Linked DNA regions of Homo sapiens. The protein of the gene in region 2 purifies or fractionates together with the protein of the main gene of each other region. This does not show direct contact. Each region holds a gene or a part of one and is shown on either strand. Other genes may lie near its edges. The genes, in order: CLPB, SRMS and HEPHL1.

The links.
Region 1: the proteins of SRMS (region 2) and CLPB purify together in Homo sapiens (affinity purification with mass spectrometry; 2 studies listed by BioGRID and IntAct, with this or other methods). This does not show direct contact.
Region 3: the proteins of SRMS (region 2) and HEPHL1 purify together in Homo sapiens (affinity purification with mass spectrometry; one large-scale study listed by BioGRID and IntAct). This does not show direct contact.

What each region holds. Positions count from the first base shown.
Region 1 is NC_000011.10:72,302,002-72,305,651, forward strand, and holds part of CLPB (mitochondrial disaggregase), read right to left. Parts: intron 961-3,650; exon of another isoform or gene 348-960; coding exon 303-347; exon of another isoform or gene 1-302. UniProt on the Homo sapiens protein: Functions as a regulatory ATPase and participates in secretion/protein trafficking process. Has ATP-dependent protein disaggregase activity and is required to maintain the solubility of key mitochondrial proteins.
Region 2 is NC_000020.11:63,545,506-63,549,255, reverse strand, and holds the start of SRMS (tyrosine-protein kinase Srms), read left to right. Parts: upstream 1-1,506; 5' UTR 1,507-1,792; coding exon 1,793-2,148; intron 2,149-3,750. UniProt on the Homo sapiens protein: Non-receptor tyrosine-protein kinase which phosphorylates DOK1 on tyrosine residues. Also phosphorylates KHDRBS1/SAM68 and VIM on tyrosine residues. Phosphorylation of KHDRBS1 is EGF-dependent. Phosphorylates OTUB1, promoting deubiquitination of RPTOR.
Region 3 is NC_000011.10:94,066,253-94,069,902, reverse strand, and holds part of HEPHL1 (ferroxidase HEPHL1 precursor), read right to left. Parts: intron 2,933-3,650; exon of another isoform or gene 2,608-2,932; intron 2,469-2,607; exon of another isoform or gene 2,408-2,468; coding exon 2,153-2,407; intron 1-2,152. UniProt on the Homo sapiens protein: Is a copper-binding glycoprotein with ferroxidase activity. It oxidizes Fe(2+) to Fe(3+) without releasing radical oxygen species. May be involved in the regulation of intracellular iron content.

The DNA.
Region 1 (3,650 bases), on a different chromosome or scaffold from region 2:
TGTGCTTTTAGTTTCCAACATGGGGCATGCATGGGAAGATGACTTTATACGCTATTAAGGTTGCCTCTCTCAACAGAGATGATTGGCTGTCCATCTCCTGGTGTGGCAGATAGATCTTCTCTATGTTTATTCTTCAGAGCAAATCCTATGTGAAACAAATCAGTGACCCTGCTGCACACCTGTGCTCCCAACGACAAATCCCAAGGCTGCTGGAATTATCTGAGGCCCAAATGACAAGACCCCGGCAGTCATGCTGACAAGCCCTCCAAACCATGCTTCAATCAAGGACTGTCATCACTCACCTCGTGTCGCTCCTGGAACTCGGACATGTCCAGCCTGATGAAGCCCTGTGTGGAAACAAGCAAGTACCAACTCCGTTTGGAGGCAGGAAAGTGAAGAGAAGGGTTAGGGAGGAGAGCACCTCAACTATCCCCAAGGCTTTCACACCACACCAACATAAGATCTTCTATCTCACGCTCAAGATGTTTTTTTCTGACTTCCTGTCTCCTTTTCTGTGCACTCATTTCCTACGAGTCCCTCATTCTCTTCCTTAAAAGACCCAAATCATGTACCTGACCTTCTAAATCTGACTTGGGGTGTCTTCTTTCAGGGAGGCCTCTCCTGTTCTGATCACCACATCATCCACCCACCCATCCATCCATTCCACGTTTCCTGAGGGCATCCTGTGTGTGCTGGACACCGGAGTTACAACAGGGAACAAGTCTTGGTCTCTGTCCTTAAGAAGCACCCCATCGAATGGTGCAGACATGGACAAAGTCAGTCACGATCAGTGTGGACTGTGGTGCGAGGGAGGAGAGAAACACTCAGATGGCTCCAGAATGCCTCTCAACTCTGCAAGTCTGTGTGATGCCCGTGTCCCTTTGATTTACTTTTCTTCAAAATGAATATATTTTAAAATGTATTTACATTTCTTCATTTCATTAAAAAAGATATCCATAACATAGCTTTACAGCCCTTTTCTCTCCACCACAGGGTGTAGGGGTGATTTCCGAGGAAGTGGCCCCATGGGTGAGGGCCATGGTTAGCCCTTGGGGAAGAGAACAGCTTGCATTATGTGATCTGAAGAGTTAACACAGGCAGAGTGCCCACTGGTTTTCAAGAAGCATTACCTGATTAGGGAGCTGTAAAGGCATCCACAGGTGCCCTGTCTAGCCACAGCCAGGACCACAGTTCCCCACAGTCCCCCGGGCTCCTCTCCTACTGGCACATGCCTCCATCTAAGAGACAGCATTCACTGAATCCTGCTTCTCCTGAGAGCCGGTGATGATGGGGGTGCCAAGATTCTCAGCGGGAGGTAGCTATGTCTGAAATCCAGGGCTATATTCTAGCTTGGCCACTGGTCAGAAATTCACGCCATGATGTACTTTTAGTTCTTTCTCTGTCCTGTCATTCTACAGCTGAGACACAGGGTGGCAAGAAGAACCCTGGGCTGGGAGCCAGGGGGCTCGGGTTCCAGTCCTAGTTCTGCCTGCCTGTGGAGCCTTGGACATGCTGCCTCCCCTTTTTGAGCTGCAGTTTTGTCCTGTGTTACAGAAGGCTCTTGGCTCCTCTCCCTGCCTCACCAGGGGTCTGAGGATCTAATCCAAGAGGTGGGACAGGGCTTAGAGAAGTTATTAAGGCCACATGGGGGAAAGCACTGCTATCAGCACATGGGGCATAAGCCAGAAAGCATTTCCAGAGGGTCCCTAGGCTGCTCAGTCAAGAGATCTGCAGGTTTCAGGATTTACTGGGTATTTACTATGTGCCTGGCAATGTTTTAGGCAAGCTATAAAGGGCTTAGAACATGTACAAGTCTCTGAGGTAAGCACTACTATCATCTCCACTTTACAGATGAGAAAACTAAGTCACAGATTAAAGTAACTTGCTCAAGGTCACCTGCGCTTGGCAATTCAGCTCCAAGTCTGTGCTCTTAGCCATCATGCTACACTGCCTCATAGCTTCCTCTCTGCCAATCAGCTGGGCTCTTGACAGTCTTCACCTTGAAGGGTGCTGAGCTTTGTGTCCAGATGCCAATGAATGTCGGACGACAGATGGACTATAGACTCTCGTGCTTACTTATGTCAAGTGACCTGGGTTCTCACCCTAGTTCTTCTAATGATTTGCTATGTAATTTTGAACAAGTTTTTGGGCTTGACTTTCTTGGCCGGAATCATCATTTTGATTTCACATGATCTTAGTGAGGCAAGAACAATAAGAGTAACATCCAACATGTACTGATTGCTTACCACATGCCAAGAACGGCGTTTAACATTTTACATCACTATCTCATTTAACCTTCCGAACAATCCAGTGAGACTGGCACCATTATGGAGCCTACTTTACAGATGAGAAAGCTGATGTAAACAGAGGTCCTGGCCAACTCCACCTAGTAGAGTACAGTTGGGATTTGAACCCAAGCAGCTGGACTCAGATAGTTGTTCTTTATCCCTTATCATATTGCTACTATAACTAAGTCTTTTGGGCTCCACCACCCTACCTTATGATGATATCACAGAACACCATTAAGGTTCCTTCCCAAGGCTTATTAGCTCTAGTAAGGAAAGTTAACAGAGCCACTCAATTTGGAAGAAATAGTATACAGGCTAATGAGAGAAAAAAATAAGTTCACAGATCTGATAAAGAAATCATATAAATGTACAAAGAATGCTTCTGAAGCAGCAAGATCTGGAGGTGTCAGTGTCTCTTTACAAATGAAGAAACTAGGGATCAGAGAGCCAGAACTAGAATTCACATCATCAGACTCCAGGCCAGTGCTCATTTCATTTCGTCAGCTGTCTTGGGAGGCAAATTAAAGGGAGCTTCTGTTTGGTAAAAGTCTATTTTACACTGGGCTCTGAGAATGACACTTTCCATACATCACTCTTTGGGTCCCAGGTACACTGGCTACGTAGCTTAAAGTCCAGGGCTCTCTTGGATTTTGAAGGCAGGTCTCAAACATGCCTGTCATGTGGCTATAAAGTGTCTACGCAAAACACAGATTCTATAATGAGTTGACCCACAGGGCTAGCACAGGCAGGAGTTTCATAGAAGCACCACCTATGATTTAAAAATAAAATACATGGTTGTTTTTATGGAGCTTCTCATGCCTCTCATCTCCCAATGTGAAATGGGGACACACTGGCAAGTTTCCAATCCAGCTTCCTAGAGCAGCTGAGAACAACGGTATCACAGTGAGGAGTTGAGAGACTGGATTGATTCTGGTTTTATTTCTTCCCCTAATAGGTGACCTTAGATAAGCCTAAGAATGCTGTAGGGCCTCAGTTTTCTCATCTGAAAAGTGGGTCTAATTTAGCATCCATGCTATCTTCCCCATAGGATCAAATGGGAGAGTAGATGGGGCACTGCTATGGTAAGTAGGAAGTGACGAATAAATACAAGTCAAGGAATAGGCACTTGCTGTGTGCTCACCATGATGTGATGACATAAGTGATGAGCACACAGCATCGTCACTTGATGCTCACCATAACCTAAGATATGGGTTGGAGGGCTTTCACCTTGAGGCAAGAGAGCTGAAACTTCAAGGGGTAAAGTTTACCTGCCTAGGGCCAGTAGAAAGTAGAAGCACCGGAACCTGAAGCAAAGAATGGTTGCTCCAGAGCTCTGTCCACCACAGTGCACTGCCTCCGAGG
Region 2 (3,750 bases):
GTGGGGAGGAGACGGCGTCGGGGGCGGGAGGAGACGGGCAGCGGGTGGGGGGAGGAGAGGGCGGCGGGGGCGGGAGGAGAGGGCGGCGGGGGGAAGCGCGGGAGGAGAAGGCGCTGGGGCCCCTCGAAGGCCACCCCCAATGTAGTATTTACAATTCTCCACATTTCTCAACACCCCCCACCACCCCCAGCAGGGCACCTCTCTGGTGCAGAGCCTGCCCTGAGCCTGGCGATGTCCAGTCTCCCAGGGCCCCTGCTGGCTCCAGGCTATCAGCCCGGACACAGCTTGGCTGCTGGGGTGCCCTGAGAGCCAGGCCACGGGTGTCACTGCCACCCCACAATGCACACACCAGTCCCCAGACGTGAGGTTTCTGAGAAGCCCATCTGTGACTCCAGGGCAGGCAGGTGCGAGGGGCTTGTCATTGGCTGGACACTGGTCACGCCTATTGGAGGGATGCATTCAGCCACACGCATGAAGTGGGGGCATGGATGCGTGTGAGATGTGGGAAAGGGGCGTGAGGCTCCCTGAAGGCCACCCAGGTGCGGAAGGGGCTGCTGGGGGAGGCCGGCAGGAGGAGTGAGAGACTGCAGATGGCCTCACCCCACCCCCGTGCCTCAGGACCCAGAGGGGAGGTGGGAGGAGTGAGAGACTGCAGATGGCCCCCACCCCACCCCACTCAGGACCCGGAGGGGATGTGGGAGGAGAGAGAGACTGCAGATGGCCACCACCCCATCCTCCTGCCTCAGGACCCTGTACCGTGCTGCTGGGTTTTGCTGGGATTTGCTCCCCCAGTCCTGCCCCGATCTGGGGACCTACCTGAGCGGGCAGAGTTTGCTTCAGCATGCGGGGGCTTGGCGCTGTCCAGGGAGAGGGTGGGAGGTCCCCAGCCAGGGACTCACCCGCCGCCCCTTCTCCGTGTGCTCATCCCCCTGAACTGGGGCCAGGCGTCCGCAGCCTCCACTTCCCCGCAGTGGCCTTTGGGTATGGCCTGGGCATTGACTGACTCAGAAGCCGGTCATCGGGCAGCATGGGGCATCTGGGTGCCTGGCCTGCGGCCGAGCTCCCTGCAATCAGCATCTCGTTTTACTGCATGAAAGCCGGGGTGCTGAGAGCCCCCTCACTCGCCTGTCCTCAGAATTTACTGCAGAGGCCGGAGGCTCGGCACCTGGTGCAGGGTTAATGATGTTAAAATATCTGGCCAACACTTAAATAAGCAGGCAATTTTTCACCTGAGTGCAGCTCAGGCTTGGCAACCACTGCAGGTGCTGAACAGCAGCGCTTCTCCGTGGAACCCCCACTTCTCCGTGGGCACGGGCGGCTGTTGGACTGTGGTGCCCTTGGGCATGGGCCAGGCCTGACTGGGCAGAGCCATTCCGCCTGCCTGGGCCTTGCAGAGGGCGGGAGAGAGGCTGGCCCTGCCCACCCCGCCCTCCTCGGGCCCCTCCTGGAGCCCGCCCCCGCCCCAGCCCAAGCTGCCCTCTGCCGTCGGGTTGGGGAGGGGACGGTGCACTCCAGACGCCAAGGAGGTCGAGGACAGGAGGTGCTGTCGGTGTGCCTGAGGCAGGGGGTCCGCCCTGCGCCCCACCCAGCCCCAACGCCAGCCCGGACGCCGGTGGGAACCGTGTGCCTCCTGGATCCAGGGGACCTCTGAGTGACCGCAGGGCCGGGGTCCCCTGTCACCCCACGGCCAGGGCAGGGAGCGCTGGACACCGGGTCCCACCGGCCCTGCCAGTTCCTCTTCCGGGCTCGCGGGCTCCCATGGCCCTCGGGCCCAGCGTGGTGACCCCGGGGGATGGAGCCGTTCCTCAGGAGGCGGCTGGCCTTCCTGTCCTTCTTCTGGGACAAGATCTGGCCGGCGGGCGGCGAGCCGGACCATGGCACCCCCGGGTCCCTGGACCCCAACACTGACCCAGTGCCCACGCTCCCCGCCGAGCCTTGCAGCCCCTTCCCTCAGCTCTTCCTTGCGCTCTATGACTTCACGGCGCGGTGTGGCGGGGAGCTGAGTGTCCGCCGCGGGGACAGGCTCTGTGCCCTCGAAGAGGGGGGCGGCTACATCTTCGCACGCAGGCTTTCGGGCCAGCCCAGCGCCGGGCTCGTGCCCATCACCCACGTGGCCAAGGCTTCTCCTGAGACGCTCTCAGACCAACCGTGAGTACCTCGGCCTCGGAGTCAGAGCCTGCCTCGCCCCCAGCTGGGGAGTCCAGAACAACGGCAGGATTTTGAGTTGGAAATCGCATGTCCGTGGCTATCTGTTCATTCATTCGTTCATCCACGCATTCATTCAGGGACAGCTGATGGGCCCCGGGCCGGCAGGTGTGGTAGGAAAACAGCAGTGTCCGCTGTGGGCTGCCGAGAGGGAGAGGAGGCTCCGGCAGGCGTGGTCAGGTCCTGTGGGGGGGAGCATCAGCTGCACCAGCTGGACACCCAGCAGGCGGTTCCTCCAGGACCCTGCCTGGCTGGCCAGGCCCTCCCGCCCTCACACAGGGAGTCCAGTGTTCATGGATCGGTCACTGCTTGGAGGGCAGGGGCTGGGGGCTGGGAGGCACCAGATGACAGGAGCTCCAGGAGCTCTGGGTGACGGCAGGTGAGCAGGGGCTGGGGGCTGGGGGCTGAGACAGGGGCCCATGCTCCAGGAACTCTGGGTGAGGGCAGGTGAGCAGGGGCTGGGGGCTGAGACGGGCCCACGCTCCAGGAGCTCTGGGTGAAGGCAGGTGAGCAGGGGCTGGGACTGGGGGCTGAGACAGGGGCCCACGCTCCAGGAGCTCTGGGTGAGGGCAGGTGAGCAGGGGTTGCAGAGGCGCCTAGTCCAGATGCCCAGTGCGGCTGCTCTGAGCGGCTGCCTTGGTCTGGCATCCAGCTGGGCAAGGCCTGAGCCCTGGAGACCTTCGGGGTCAGCCTTGCTCAGGGCCACTTCCAGCCTCCTGGGGGCCCTTTGGCACTCACACATCGTCCTGGGGGTTGCATGGGCGGGTGAAGCCGGAGTCACAGGAAGGGGCCTTCTGAGGGGCCCCAGGCCCTCACCCCACACCTGCCCCGCTTGTCCTGAGCAGTGGTTGGGGGGCAAGCAGCCTTTGTGATGGGAAGGGGCTCACAGTCACCCCAGGTGTGGAGGACAGACCCCTTCAGCAGTTCCTGGAGGGCAGGGCTCGTGGTGGAGCAGGGCGGTCCATAGGCAAAGCTAATGACTATTTGCCTAGGCTGGAGATTAAAAGACTAACCACACTCAGGTGTCATTAGCTCCAGACACCTGGCCCCACGCCCCAGGGAGAGACCTCAGACACATCCTCTGCATCTCAGGATCCCACAGGGGCTCACCTCTGACCCCCAAGCCCTGATGTGGGCTTCAGAGGAGGCTGGCGATGTTTTGGGGAAACACCTGTGTCTCATCCCCACACCCCACGGTGCTGGGAGGGACCTGAGTCCCTTTACACGTGAGAGGGTTGCGTCTCCCTGCCAGCAGACCCCAGAAGGCAGGGGCCCTGGCTGCAGGAGGAGCTCCATGGACAGAGCGTCCATGGAGTCAGTGCCTCAGGCCGCTGCCTCTCTGTCCCTGGTCCCACACCTCTTCCTGTCTCCATCTTCATTCCCTTCAACTTAAGCCCAGCCCCACGGCCCTGGTCATGTCAGTTTCTATTCCTGCTGCCCCCATTGCCCCCTAGGTCACCGGGGCAGGGGTGCCAGACTGTGTCCTCCGTCTTGCCCAGTCCCAGTCTGCCAGGATGGCATGGCCGTGCCCCAGCCCCGAATCTT
Region 3 (3,650 bases), on a different chromosome or scaffold from region 2:
AGAATAACAATTTCCAAAAGAGAATGTGGCAATGTATGTCCATAGCTTTTTTAAAAAAATCATACTCTTTGACCCAGAAATTCTAAATCTAGGAGTTTTTCTAAGAAAATGTTCAGACAAAAGTGCAAACATCTATAAATAATAGTCATCAGTGCTGTTTATAATAGCAAAAAAATTGGTGGGAAACATAAGCATTAAGCAATAGAGTATTGATTAAGCAAGATGTAATCTCCTTATAATGGACACTGGAAGTATTAACCATGATGAAGTAAGCTCTATATTCACCGACATGAAAATGTGTTTCTGATATATTTGTAAATGAGAAAAATTAGCTACAGTGCAGCATTAATAGACTGATTTCATTTTTTAAAATACATATATATTTACATATTAAGAAATAGAAAATAGGGAAGATATTCACCAAAATGTGAATATAAAATATTTCTATTATGGAACTACTGATTTTAAAACCAATTTATAGGGGCCAGATCCAGTGGCTCATGCCTATAATCCCAGCACTTTGAAAGGCTAAGGTGGGAGGATTGCTTGGGCCCAGGAGTTTGAGACCAGCCTGGGCAACATAGCAAGACCCTGTCTCTATTTGTTAAAAAACCTCCAATTATATGTATTTTCTAATTTTTTTACAATAACTTTTTTCTGAAGGCATGGACAATTTAGAAATACTGTATTTCAGGGAACGTATAAATACTAGCTTATGTCCACAACTATCGGGCTAATTTAGCGATCTTACTAGTCTCAAATGGCAGCTAATATCTTGATTTTAAATCTACAGTTTCTTCCCAGATTTAACAGCATAAGACTCTTTGAGAATAGAAACCTTCTCTTGTTAATCTTTGTTTTCCCAGAAGAGCATCTAGTACATATTAACTGATTAATTTTTCAGTTGAATGTAATTGGGATACTGCAGTTGACTAATGCTATGACTCACTGTGGAAGGTGGACAGGAACAAGAATGTGTTACAAAAGCAGCCCTGAGCAGCTGGATCTTTGCACCTATTAGTGACTATGGGAAGTTAGTATCCAAATATCAGACATTATTTCTTCTGTGTCTATTCCATTAACATATTTTTTCTGTCTTGGTTTCATCATCTTAGGGCAGACGTTTAGGTGTTAGACCTCTAACACTGTCAAATGCTTCTTAACTAGCATCCAGTGGTCAGAATTCCTCCATCAAGTCCTTCTTGCATGCATACATTTATCTTCTTAAATAACTGCACCGATTATGTCACTAGTGTGCCAAAAGAGCTAAGGATCACACAGCCCCACCTCCTTAGCTTTGCTAAGGGGCCTGATGAGCCTCCCAGGCTCTTCTGTCATCACTTCTCTGTAAGGAACATTATGGTCCAGCTAAGAAAGGACATAGTGTATGATGTCTGAAGAAACCAGGACCAGGTCATTCAACAGGCATTTAAGCCAACAAATGTTTATCATGCACCTATCATAGGACATGAAGGAAGCTATAGGTCAATGGATTTTGTCTCAATTTGAGGAAGAACATTCCAATAGAGCAGTCCAGAGATGAGATGAGCTGCTATAACTACTCACAAGAGATGTTCAAAACGAAATTAAATAATTCGAGGGGGGATTGGTCCTTATTATCCAGAAAGTCCTTTCCAGTGCTAAAACCTTATTACTCTACTTACAGTTGCTCAAAAAGAACATGTGTTTTTCCCAGTTCATGCTGCTTCCTCAAAAGTCTTTCTTTCCTTCTTCATCTATTCAGTTCCTACTCATATTTCAAGGCTCATGTTAGGAGCCAGCTCCTCAGGAAGCCCCTCTGATTGCTCCAGAGTAGTGACTGCAACACCCAAAGAGCATTTATCTCATTCTGCCTTAAATCGTATTCATTTTGTGAATGTCTAACTATGTCTAACAACTATACTACAGGTTCCTCGAAGGTCTCATCAATTTTTAATCACTTCCCCACTTTTTTCATACAGAAGTGGTCAATAAATATCTGTTGATAGAATATCAAAGAGATGAGCGTTATATTTTCCTGTATATTTATTACCTAATTAAATATAGTACATACAAGGCTCTATCTAACAGTAGGTACTGGATGAGCACTAGTGACTGTGTGGTTTGATTGTACCATTCTAAACATATCAACTCTGGTCTTTATCCTTTTTACCTTGTAGGTGGTCGCTGACCTGGCAGGTTATCATCCACTTCCCAGGATTCTCGGCTATCATTTCTGTTGTAAGGAAGGTGGCTGGGAACAGGTTGACGACATCAGTCCGATGCCCTCTGCTGATGAAGGTGTTACCATAGAAATAGATAGAATGGATGTCTATTTCATTCCCCATTCCAAATAGGTGCCAGGACACAGATTCTCCAACACACATATCAGGCTCCGGGAAGTTTCCGAAGAGGTATCCATTGAGGGCTGGAAACAGAAACACGCTAGTGGAAGAGACTCCCCTGCAGAGGCGACTGGGACCAGAAATGTTGGTAATACGGGCTTAAGCATGGCTGGAAAACCAGTGCAGACCATTGGTTGTAAGGTTTTGGTGCAGAAAAACCTGGCTCTTAGAAATATATATTGTCCAAAAGAGAAATGAAATGTTTTTATTGGCCTTTTTCCAGAGAAAACACTCAATAAAAGTGAAGATCAGCATACACTGAGAACAGCCTCGGAGCTGCTGTGGGAACGCAATATGAGGTCAGGAGAAAACAGAGTGCTGCTCATATTTACAGGAGGCTCAGTCACCTTCTGTCATAATCCTTCACTGGCATATCTGCTGTCTTCACCAGATTCTGTGCTCCTTGGAACTAGAAACCCTGTCTTGTTCATCTTAACAGTTATCAGGACCTAGCAGAAAAACTGGCACATAGTATCTACTTAATGAAGTGACAAAAGCATGTAGTAAGATGGAAAGAAAAGGAATTGATTAAAAGGAATTTATGAGAACTGTTTTGTTTGTTTGTTTGTTTACTTTAAAAAGCCAAGAGAAAAACAGTTTTTACTACATGTTGCTGGAGCAGAATCTTATTAAGTTTATGGCGTAAATCCAGGACCGAATACTTTAAAACCATCTAAATGGCAGCTGGGAGTTGACCAAGTTCAGAAAAGAACTTGATTCAGGGCTTTAAAAAGTCACAATATCCCTTCTTAAGTTCGAACTGAGTTAAAAGCAATTGTTGCTGAAATGCCTGATGACTTAGGCAGCACAATTAATTCTAAATTATTTTAGTAAATTTAAATAAATTGATCAATAAAACTTGTACATATTAATTATCTTCCATAGTCTAGATTTTTTTAATTAAATTTTTTCCTTTACTTGATTAGGTCTCTTTTTCCAGTCTCTCTCTCTTTTTTTTCTTTTGAGATGGAGTCTCGCTCTGTCACACCCAGGCTGAAGTGCAGTGGCACAATCTCAGCTCACTGCAACCTCTGTCTCCTGGGTTCAAAAGATTCTTGTGCCTCAGCCTCCCCAGTAGCTGAGATTACAGGTGCCCACCACCATGACCAGCTAATTTTTGTATTTTTAGTAGAGACAGGTTTTGCCATGTTGGCCAGGCTGGTCTTGAACTCCTGGCCTCAAGTGATCCTCCCACCTTGGCCTCCCAAAGTGCTGGGATTACAGGCGTGTGCCACAATACCCCACCCTTTTCCAGTCTTGAAGGAT